Linked DNA regions of Homo sapiens. The protein of the gene in region 2 purifies or fractionates together with the protein of the main gene of each other region. This does not show direct contact. Each region holds a gene or a part of one and is shown on either strand. Other genes may lie near its edges.

Region 1 (3,649 bases), on a different chromosome or scaffold from region 2:
AGTCTCAAGCAATCCTTCCATCTCAGCCTTCTGGGTAGCTGGGACTACAGGCATGCATCACCTCGCCTGGCTTAGAATTGGCTTTGATAGCAGCTTCATTGCTTCAGTAGTGATATTGGACCACAGTTTTGTCGTCTGCAAAAAGTCTTAGGTTGGCTTTTGTCCCCTCGTGCCATTAAAGCAGTATTGTTTAAGGTGATGTATATCTACATGCTAAATTAATCCTGTCATTCTTAGCTTTCTAACTAGTTCTTAGTTGGTTTTTTTTTGTTGTTTTTTTTTTGAGAGGGAGTTTTGTCACCCAGGCTGGAGTGCAGTGGCACAATCTCTGCTCACTGCAACCTCCGCCCTCCCGGATTCAAGCAAGTCTCTTGCCTCAGCCTCCCAAGTAGCTGGGACTGCAGGTGTGTACCACCACACCTGGCTAATTTTTTGGGGTTTTGCCATGTTGGCCAGGGTGATCTCGAACTCCTGACCTCAGGTGATCAGCCGGTCTCGGCGTGAGCCACCGTGCCCGGCTGCAGTTATGATTTAATACTGCATCTTTGTTCATTTACATATCTCAACTGTGGATGGTGCCGTGTATGGTCTGTGTGTTTTGATGAATTTTAACTTTTTATAATTTGTATTTTATGGTAGTGAAGAAGACTAGTACCTACATATCTTTTATGCATTGATTACATACATTTTGTTAATTCAACATTTCTAGGCTATGAGGTTTGTCTTGAGTTTTTTCATATATATATATATATATATATATATAATTAATTTTTTGGAGAGAGAGTCTTGTTGTCTTGCCCAAGCTGGAGTGTAGTGGCCAGATCTTGGCTTACTGCAACTTCTGCCTCCCCTGTGCAAGCGATTCTTGTGCATCAGCCTCCCAAGTAGCTGAGACTACAGTTTACAAAAATTAGCCGAGCATGGGTAGCAGGGTCCTGTAATCGCTTGAAACCGGGAGGCAGAGGTTGCAGTGAGTCGAGATTGTGCCACTGCACTCTAGCCTCAGAGCAAGACTCCATCTCAAAAAAAAAAGGGCCAGGTGGTGTGGCTCACGTGGTAATCCCAACACTGTGGGAAGCCAACACGGGCATATCACTTGAAGCCAGGAGTTCGAGACCAGCCTGGCTGACATGGCAAAACCCCGTCTCTACTAAAAATACAAAAATCAGCCAGGCGTGGTTGCGCATGACTGTAGTCATTCAGAGTCTAACTCCGTTGCTCAGGCTGGAGTGCACTGGTGCGATCTAGGCTCACCGCAGTCTCCACCTCCAGGGTTCAAGCAATTCTCCTGCCTCAGCCTCCCAAGTAGTTGGGATTACAGGCGCCCGCCACCACACCTGGCTAATTTTTGTATTTTTAGTAGAAATGAGGTTTTACCATGTTGGCCAGGCTGGTCTCGAACTCCTGACCTCAGGTGATCCACTCACCTTGCCTTTCCAAAGTTCTGGGATTATAGGCGTTAGCCACCGTGCCCAGGCTACACTTCTTTTTTTAAAATTAATTTTTTGAACTAGAGAAGGGGTCTCATTTTGCTGCTTAGCCTGGTCTCAAACTCCTAGCCTCAAACAGTCCTTCTGCCTTCCAAAGTGCAGGGATTATAGCTGTGAGCCTAGCCTTGAATTTCTGTTAGCAATGTATGGGAGTACAATTTCTCCTTAACCCTATCTTTGACTATTCGATGGGTAAAACATACTTTCTAAGTATAGTTTTTTTGTTTCTCTTAAGAATGAGCGGCCGGGCGCGGTGGCTCACACCTGTAATCCAGCACTTTGGGAGGCCGAGGTGGGCAGATCACGAGGTCAGGAGATCGAGACCATCCTGGCTAACACGGTGAAACCCCATCTCTACTAAAAATACAAAAAAAAAATGTAGTCCCAGCTACTTGAGAAGCTGACGCAGGAGAATGGCGTGAACCCGGGAGGCGGAGCTTGCAGTGAGCCGAGATCGAGATCGCGCCACTGCACTCCAGCCTGGGCAACAGTGCGAGACTCCGTCTCAAAAACAAAAGAATGAGCAGTAGCAGGTGGTCAAGTGTTTGTTTGTTTGTTTGTTTGTTTGTGAGTGTTTATATTAAATCCATTAATCTATTCCCATTGGGCTTTTTTATCCTGTTGACTAAGATTCTATGTATATTTGCTAAGTTAACCTTTTGTGAAATGAATTAGATGGAGTAGAATCTGTCAATATCCTATGGTTTCTGGTTTGTTTGTTTATTTATTTGAAACAAGGTCTTACTCTCTCACCCAGGCTAGAGTATAGTGGTATGATCATAGCTCACTGCAGCCTCTATCTCCTGGGCTCAAGCAATCTTCCCATATCAGTCTCTGGAGTAGCTGGGACTACAGGCATGTACCACCATGCCCATCTCATTTTATTTTTGGTAGAGATAGGTCTCGCTGTGTTGCCCAGGTTGGTTTTTGAACCCCTGAGCTCAAGCAGTCCACCTACCTAGGCCTCACAAAGTGTTGGGATTACAGGAGAGAGCCACTGCACCCAGTCTGGTTTCTGGGTTTAAAACGGCCTTCTCCAAACAAATTACCAAGTAATTTCCCTATCATTTCCTCTAGTACTTCTCTGGATTCATGCTCATTCTAAAAATTCATAATGAACGTCATAAAACTATGAAGCCATAGCTTCATAGTTGTAAATGTAGTGACTATTAGAATTAACATTTTAAAAAATAACTGGATCAGGCTGGGCGCAGTGGCTCACACCTGTAATCTCAGCACTTTGGGAGGCCCAGGCGGGAGGATCACTTGAGGTCAGGAGCTCGAGACCAGACTGGCTAACATGGTGAAACCCCATCTCTGGTAAAAAACAGAAAAATTAGCCAGGCGTGGTGGTGGGCGCCTGTAATCCCAGCTACTTGGGAGGCTGAGGCAGGAGAATGGCTTGAACCCAGAAGGCAGAGGTTGCAGGGAGCTGAGATGATACCACTGCACTCCAGCCTGGGCAACAGAGAAGGACTGTCTCAAAAACAAAACAAAACTGAATCAGACATACCTATTGCCCAGATAGGACATGAACATCCATTTATAATTTTTATTCTGATCCAGTAGTCCTCAGAGCATGGTTCTAGAAACCAGCAGTGTGTCACCTGGGCAGTTGTTAGAAATGCAGATTCTTCAACCTTACCTCAAACCTTCTGACTCAGAAACTGTAGGGGGTGGAGCTCAAACTGTTATAACCGTTCCTCCAAATGGTTTGCATACAGACTAAAATTTGAGAAACACTGCTTTAATTCATCTTTTTTTCCAACTATACAAGTACTGCCTTAGTTCACCCTCTTTTCTATTTGTCTAGGCTTGTGCTAAGCAAGAATAGAAATAAATTTATCGGCCGGGCGCGGTGGCTCACGCCTGTATTCCCAGCACTTTGGGAGGCCGAGGCAGGTGGATCACGAGGTCAGGAGACGAGACCATCCTGGCTAACACGGTGAAACCCTGTCTCTACTAAAAATACAAAAAAATTAGCCGGGCATGGTGGCCGGTGCACAGGCACCGGCCTGGCACCAGGCCCAGGCTGAGGCAGGAGAATGGCGTGAACCCGGGAGGCGGAGCTTGCAGTGAGCCGGAGATCGTGCCAGGGCACTCCAGCCTGGGCGACAGAGCAAGACTCTGTCTCAAAAAAAAAAAAAAAAAAGAAAAGA
Region 2 (3,749 bases):
CACCTGGCCCGATCTCAATTCTTTCAGGGACTACATTCATAGCCTTAACACAAAATTAAAGAAAGATTATAGGTAGGAGAAGGTCCAGGACCACTGCCCCTGTGTTAAGCACCAGCATATATCCCAAGCAGCCAGAGAGCTAAGCAGATGATGAGAATGAGGCCCAAATGCCTCAGCCAGGGAAACTCACTGAAAGTGACACTCCAAAACCTGCACTGCAAAGAAGACACAATCGTGGATGCTTTGGAACAGTGGACTTTCCAGGGAATCTAGAAGGACAGTACCAAGCTGTCAGTTAAGAACGGTCCCGTTTCTAGACCCCATGTCTCAAAAGGAGGCTTGCTCACTGACCTAGGACAGCTGGACTTAGTTCAGGGTCGCTGTCCTTGGCAGTCACCATCCTCCGGGCAGTGAGGAGCTGAAAGACGAAGAAAAGCTCCAAGAAGAGGTTTGGTACCAGGTTCTCTAGATAGATACAAAAAGAAAGCCCATGGTATGGGCACCATTTGGAGCCAAGGCTCAGTTCCAAGTGCCTTACCAATTCTCTTACCCATAAGTTCTACAAGTGTCTCCACTCCCGCTCCCTCCGCTCTCACTCACCAGCAATGCACGAGGAGTAAACAAGGGCTACAAGCTCCAGGCGCTGGCGGGAAGACACTCTGGCAGGGTCTGCAGGTTCATCTGTGAGGCTTCCTGTCCGGCTGGGGAGGGGCGACCCCAATTCTGGGGTGGGACAGGTGGGGGTAGGTGACTGCTGCAGCTGCTTAGAGCTATGGAATAAAGAAATTTCATGAGCAGTCAGCTTGGCTTCCCTGCTACGGCCACACTCAGGTCACTCCAGAGAAGATACCAACAGCCCAGGAGACAAACCCAGAGTCCCCAAGAGGGAAATCAATTTCAGGGAAAACCCCTGAAGATCCCCCACAGCGAGGAAACCGATATCCCCAGGAGCGGCCAGGCCATACCGCTCCTTCCTGAGCATCTCTCGCTCCTCTTGCAGACTTCTGCACCCTGGGGGAAGGCCAAGGCCCCAAGGGCTAGTGTCCAGGGCTGAGGGTTGGGAACTGGGGACACAGCTGATTGGGGGTGAGGTGAAGCAGGTCTTGGGCTTGGAGAGTGACCGCTCTTCGCTCACCGGAGTTGGGTTGATCCTGCGAGAAGGCTTCGTCCTGCTGAGAGTAGCCACAGGTTTTTCTCAAATTCCTATCTTCAAACATCTCCCCTCCACCACCGCAACAGCTAGACCTCTTGCCAAAAAACCCCACAAAAACCCTCACCATCACCCCCAGCCTTCTACCCATCCTGGCGCTCCACTGCGGAGCGCCGAGCTCGAATGACTGACTCCCCAGAGCCTTCGTGGTACCCATCTCCTGCATGAGAGCTGAGTCTCACCCTGTAGGGCCGGGGGGAACCGAGCCTACGGGAGGGAACTCCTCCAGGTTGCTGAGGTTTGGCGGATCAGACAGCGTGAGGCTGGGGCGGCTGGGGCTGCCAGAGCCCCTAAGCCTCCGGCCCCCGGCTCCGGGCAGGCTCTCCCCGCTGACCCCCTCCTCCAGGCCGCGGCCTCCACGCTCGCGGGCCGGCCCCGGGCCCCGCCTCCTGCCCCCGCGGCGGGCCAGAGGGGCCTCGGCAGCGGTGCTCTGGGCCTCGGTCGGAGGGAAAAGCTGGCTGCGCGCCCCGCGGCTACCCCGCGGCGGGCCTCCCGGCCTCCCTGGCAAGGCTGCCGAGGCGCCCGGGGTCTTGGCGGGGGTCGGGGGCCCCTGCGGGAGGACGCGGCTGCTCTGCTCCCTCAGGAAGTTCAACAGGAACGGTACGAATTCTTTCCGCAGGGCCCGGAGTGAGCTCAGCGCGGCCGCCTCCCCAGCGTTATCCTAGGGCAGAAGCACAGGTGGAGGGGCGAGAGGGTCAGCCGCCGGCCCGCGGGCCGTGAGCAGCCGGGGCCGTAGGGCGCGCCTCGGGTGGGCGGCCCGGGCAGCGGCGCCCAGTTGGAGTGCACTCGGCCCGGCTGGCAGCCAGGCGCCCTAGAGGAAGGGGACTGGAGGGCTGGACTCCACTGCGGGAACCGGCTTCGAGTCAGACCTGGGGGCGTGTCACCGCTGTTACCTCCGAACCCTGGGTGCTGCGCGCGATCCACCGCACGACGGCTGCGACCGACACCTCTTCTCGCAGCAGCGACTCCAAAACGGCCGCCATCCCGGTCGGGGCGCTCTGGGGCGACTGCGCAGGCGCCGGCGCGCCGCGGGCGGCCAGGGAGGGGCGGGGCCGGCGGCGGGGAACGACCGTTGGGTCGCGGGATGGGGAGGGACCCGGCTGGCGGGGCGGGGCGGAGCCGGCTGTTGCCCAGACCCACGGAGTCAAGGCCTCGCTGAGTCCTCAACCCCGGCCGAGAGGCCGGTTGTTAGGAGGTGAAATGTGGATCACAGCGCCTGGGGAGGCCCACCTTGGCTGCCCGCCCTGGAGCGACCTGAAGGGAGGGATTCGAGCTGGGAGTGGGGCTGCCGCGGGTCGGACGCCCCTCTAGGGAGACCCAGGACCCGGGAGAGAGGTAGAGGGGAGCAGAGACAGCCACCAGCTTCTATCTTCTGCTCTAAGCACATTCTTTCACGAGTTTAAGTTTCCTAGATCCAACTGGCACCACCCCAGAGAAATTATAATCTAATCTTTCATTTTGACTTTGTTCTTCTCAAAGGCCGATTTTTCAATCCCTTGGCCGAGCAGTACCCATCGGCTTTTCAGCGCTCACCATCAACTGACCATTTAGGAAAGAATTATTTCTAGGAGGTTCTTAATAATCCCCAAGCCACAACCCTTAAAGTGCCTCGGGCCACCCTGCACACAGAATTGCTTGTATGTAGCTTTATTTACTTAAGTGGGTTTACATGAGGTTAATATTTCAACTACTTTGCAGTTTAGATGTCAGTAAGCATATCATGATTAGCTTCTGGGAGCTTGAGGTTTGTATTTTTGGGTTTGGTGTTTTTTGTTTTTGTTTTGTTTTTTTTGAGACAGGGTCTTGCTCTGTTGCCCAGGCTGGAGTGCAGTGGCGTGAGCACGGCTCACTGCAGCCTTGGCCTCCTGGGCTCAAGCAATCCTCCCGACTCAGCCTCCCTAGGGCTATAGCCCAGCTAATGTTTTGGCCGGGAGAGGGCAGCAGATCCAAAGTGCTGGGATTATAGGCGTGGGCCACCACGCCCGGCCTGAGTAATTTCTTAATCTCCTTTATTTAATTTTATTTTGAGATGGAGTCTCGCTCTGTCACCCCCGGGGCTGGAATGCAGTGGGAGGCAGAGGTGGGCGGATCACGAGGTCGAGAGATGGAGACCATCCTGGCCAACATGGTGAAACCGTGTCTCTAATAAAAATACAAAAATTAACTGGGCGTGGTGGCACGCGCCTGTAGTCCTAGCTACTGGGGAGGCTGAGGCAGGAGAATCGCTTGAACCTGGGAGGCGGAGGTTGCAGTGATCCAAGATCACGCCACTGCACTCCAGCCTGGGTGACAGAGCGAGACTCCATCTCAAAAACAAAACAAAACAAAAAAACCTGAGAGAGGATTTTGAAGGTTGCTGCTCAGTGACAAATCAAGCAAGGGAATCCAAGCGGAGAAAAACAGATGGCACGAACATTCCATGTCAAACCAAACCAGGAGGGGTGAGGCAGTGCCCTTGTGAATGCCTCCTGAGAGTTGCTCTGGTTCAAAGGAAGGTTACGGGCGGAAGGATGAGGGTGGGGGTGCAGGAATCTCTCTA
Region 3 (3,649 bases), on a different chromosome or scaffold from region 2:
ATAAGTAGAAGTGGTACACTCTAAATTTTTTTTTTTTTTTTTTTGAGATGGAGTCTCACTCTGTCGCCCAGGCTGGAGTGCAGTGGTGTTATCTCAGCTTACTTCAACCTCTGCCTCCTGGGTTCAAGCGTCTCTCCTGCCCCAGCCTCCCAAATAGCTGGGATTACAGGTGCACACCACCGCTCCCTGCTGCTTTTTGTATATTTAGTAGAGACGCAGTTTCTCCATGGTGGCCAGGCTGGCCTCAAACTCCTGACCTCAAGTGATCCGCCTGCCTCAGCCTCCCAAAGTGCTGGGATTACAGCCGTTAGCCACCGCCCCTGCTCTCTAAAATTTAAATAATTAAAAAGTACAGTGCAGGCCAGGTGCCGTGGCTCATGCCTGTAATCCCAGCACTTTGGGAGGCCATGGCAGGCGGATCACTTGAAGTCAGGAGTTCAAGATCAACCTGGCCAACATGGCAAAACCCCCTCTCTACTAAAAATACAAAAATTAGCTGGGCGTGCTGGGATGTGCCTGTAATCCCAGCTAGTTGGGAGGCTGAGGCAGGAGAATCGCTTGAACCTGGAAGGCAAAGACCACAGTGAGCTGTGATCGCGCCACTGCACTCCAGCCTTGGCAACAGAGCGAGACTCCATCTCAAAAACAAAAAAAGTGCAGTACATAAGCCCTCACTTAGTAGCAGTGATAGGTTCTTGGAAACTACAACTTTAAGGGAAACAAGGTGTAACAAAACCAATTTTACCATAGGCTAATTGACATAAACAAGAGTTAAGTTCCTGTGGCATATTCCTGGTCACAAAAACATTACCCAGCTTCTAAATAAAGACTAAAACACTTCTAATACTAAACGTTGAAATGTATATGAGCTTTATATACATTTAAGAAAGTTTAATAGAAACAAGGTAACATTTACCCACTCATTCCCCACTCAGGGTTGAGGGTGGCCAGAGCCTATATCAGCAGCTCAGGGGCAAGGTGGGAGCCACCCTAGACAGGATGCCATCCCATTGCAGGGCGGGTACACACACACACACACACACACACACACACACACACACACACCCCATGTGGGTATGCCGGTGAACCCAACACATGTGCCTTTGGGATGTGGGAGGAAAGCAGAATAACCTGAGAAAACCCACACAGATAGGGGAAGAACAAACAGACTCCACATGGACAGTGGTGCCGACCAGGAATTGATTTTTTTTTTGAGACGGAGTCTAACTTTATCACCCAGGCTAGAGTGCCATGGCGCAGTCTCGCCTCACTGCAACCTCCACCTCCCAGGTTCAAGTGATTCTCCTGCTTCAGCCTCTTGAGTAGTGGGGATTACAGGTGGCCACCACCACGGCCAGCTAATTTTTGTATTTTTAGTAGAGACGGGGTTTCACCATGTTGGGTCAGGCTGGTCTCGAACTCCTGACCTCAGGTGATCCAGCGACCTCAGGTGATCCACCCGCCTTGGCCTCCCAAAGTCCTGGGATTACAGGCATGAGCTGCCGTGCCTGGCCCCCTTTTTTTTTTTTTTTTTTTTTAAATCAGCGTTATAACAAAATGATGTTATTTAAGGGCCTGCTGTATAGTAAATACATAAACCAATAATGTATTCATTTATTATCATTATCAAGTGTTATATACTGTAGATAATTGTTAGGTGCTAGACTTTAATATGGCTGGCAGCACAGTAGGTTTGTTTACACCAGCATCACCACAAGCGCGAGTAATGCATTGTGTGGTGACATCATGACTGCTGGGTTACCAGGTGATAGGAATTTTTCACCTCTGTTGTACTTTTTTTTTTTTTTTCTTCCTCAGTTCATGGGAAGCTCTGTTATACTCTTATGGGACCCCGTCATATGTGTGGCTTAGCATCATTGACCGAAGGGTTGTTCTGCAGTGGATGACTGTATCAAATTCGCCATTCTAAGAAAACTGGGGTTCCATAATTTCACATTTCATATTTTATTAGAATAAAGTAAAGCTAATAGCACTTAAATTGTTTTTGTAAGAAGGATTTAAAAACAAAAAATACAAAGTACTGCTAATTGATTTATGTAACAGATAATGCTTTAACCTAAGGGGTTTACATGCTAAAAATGACCCCTTTGATGTTACCCGAGCATATATACATTTACAGATATGATGTATCAGCTTTAGAGGAGGGGGGAAAATAACCGTCCTTGTTATTTTAAAATCTATGATACTTGAGTATACGTGGAAAAGAGGTGTGATTATCATAGAATGAACTTGAAAGGGATGAAAAGGGTTGACATCCATTCACTTAACAAATATTTGAGCACCTGTTATTTTATTTTATTTTATTTTTGGAGATAGAGTCTCGCTCTGTCACCAGGCTGGAGTGCAGTGGCGCGACCTCAGCTCACTGCATCCTCCAACTCCTGGGTTCAAGTGACTCCTACCTCAGCCTCCCGAGTAGCTGGGACCACAGGTGCGCACCACTACGCCCAGCTAAGTTTTATATTTTTAGTAGAGACGGGGTTTCACCATGTTGGCCAGGATGGTCTCCATCTCTTGACCTCGTGATCCACCTGCCTCGGCCTCCCAAAGTGCTGGGATTACAGGCGTGAGCCACTACGCCCAGCCAGAGCACCTATTATTTTCTCAATGGCTTGGTAGATTCCAGTGGAGAAAATAGGATGAGCAAAGAGAAAAGTCAGATGAGGGACCAGATGGACCTGAATGGAATTAACATGTGGAGACAATAGAGAAATGATTGAATATTTAGGAGGATCTTTGAAGAGTTCTAAAAGGCAGGCCAATATACCTTCTTGTTAATTTTCCCTTTTGTTTACAGGCATGCATGTAGGGAATACCGGATTCATAAAGAGCTGGATCATCCCAGAATAGTTAAGCTGTATGATTACTTTTCACTGGATACTGACTCGTAAGTGCTGTGCTGTTTTACCTTAACAGTTATATTATTTTCTTGCAATGCTGATTGTTCATGGAATAGAGCTGAACTCTGGGTCCAGGACATACCCTCTGAGGGAACCAAGTAATTTGTGACAAATGATCAAACATAAATTCAGATTTGGATCAGCAAGAAACCTCTAGGCCAAAGGACATGTGCACTTGTGTGCCAGTAAATGTTTAACAGCCAGCTTGGTATGAAGAGAGACAGGGCTAATTTATAGTGTTTGCCAGTTTCCGTGGTGTAGATATTCCTCCTGTGTCTAATTTTGATGTACCACCTGTTTATTTTTGTTTTTTTTTAAACATCTTAATTATAATTCACATACTGTATGATTCACACATGTAAAATATACAGTTTAGTGGTTTGTAGCATATTCATAGATACATGCAACCACCAGAGGCAATTTTAGAATTTTTTCACCATCTCAAACCCCATCATACCTTTTACTACTATTCATCTATTCCACCATTCCATCCCTCTGCCCTAGCCCTAATCTGTCTGTTTTATCTTTATAGATTTCCTATTCTGGACCCTCATATGCATGGAATCATATAGTATGTGGACTTTTATTACTGGCTTCTTTCACTTACCATGGTGTTGTCAAATTTCATCCTTGTAGCCTGTGTCAGTACTTCATTCCTTTTTATGGCAAAATAATATTCCATTGTGTGGATATACCACATTTTGCTTATAACGGTTTGATAACCAGCT

Evidence for each region.
Region 1: the proteins of CDAN1 (region 2) and NASP purify together in Homo sapiens (affinity purification with mass spectrometry, with the first as the bait; one large-scale study listed by BioGRID). This does not show direct contact.
Region 3: the proteins of CDAN1 (region 2) and TLK2 purify together in Homo sapiens (affinity purification with mass spectrometry, with the first as the bait; one large-scale study listed by BioGRID). This does not show direct contact.

Annotation. Positions count from the first base shown.
Region 1 is NC_000001.11:45,586,926-45,590,574, forward strand, and holds part of NASP (nuclear autoantigenic sperm protein), read left to right. Parts: intron 1-3,649. UniProt on the Homo sapiens protein: Component of the histone chaperone network. Binds and stabilizes histone H3-H4 not bound to chromatin to maintain a soluble reservoir and modulate degradation by chaperone-mediated autophagy.
Region 2 is NC_000015.10:42,734,910-42,738,658, forward strand, and holds the start of CDAN1 (codanin-1), read right to left. Parts: upstream 2,220-3,749; 5' UTR 2,194-2,219; coding exon 2,104-2,193; coding exon of another isoform or gene 2,080-2,103; intron 1,872-2,079; coding exon 1,393-1,871; intron 1,173-1,392; coding exon of another isoform or gene 1,170-1,172; coding exon 966-1,169; intron 771-965; coding exon 601-770; intron 466-600; coding exon 352-465; intron 270-351; coding exon 191-269; intron 1-190. UniProt on the Homo sapiens protein: May act as a negative regulator of ASF1 in chromatin assembly.
Region 3 is NC_000017.11:62,593,767-62,597,415, forward strand, and holds part of TLK2 (serine/threonine-protein kinase tousled-like 2), read left to right. Parts: intron 1-2,818; coding exon 2,819-2,908; intron 2,909-3,649. UniProt on the Homo sapiens protein: Serine/threonine-protein kinase involved in the process of chromatin assembly and probably also DNA replication, transcription, repair, and chromosome segregation. Phosphorylates the chromatin assembly factors ASF1A and ASF1B.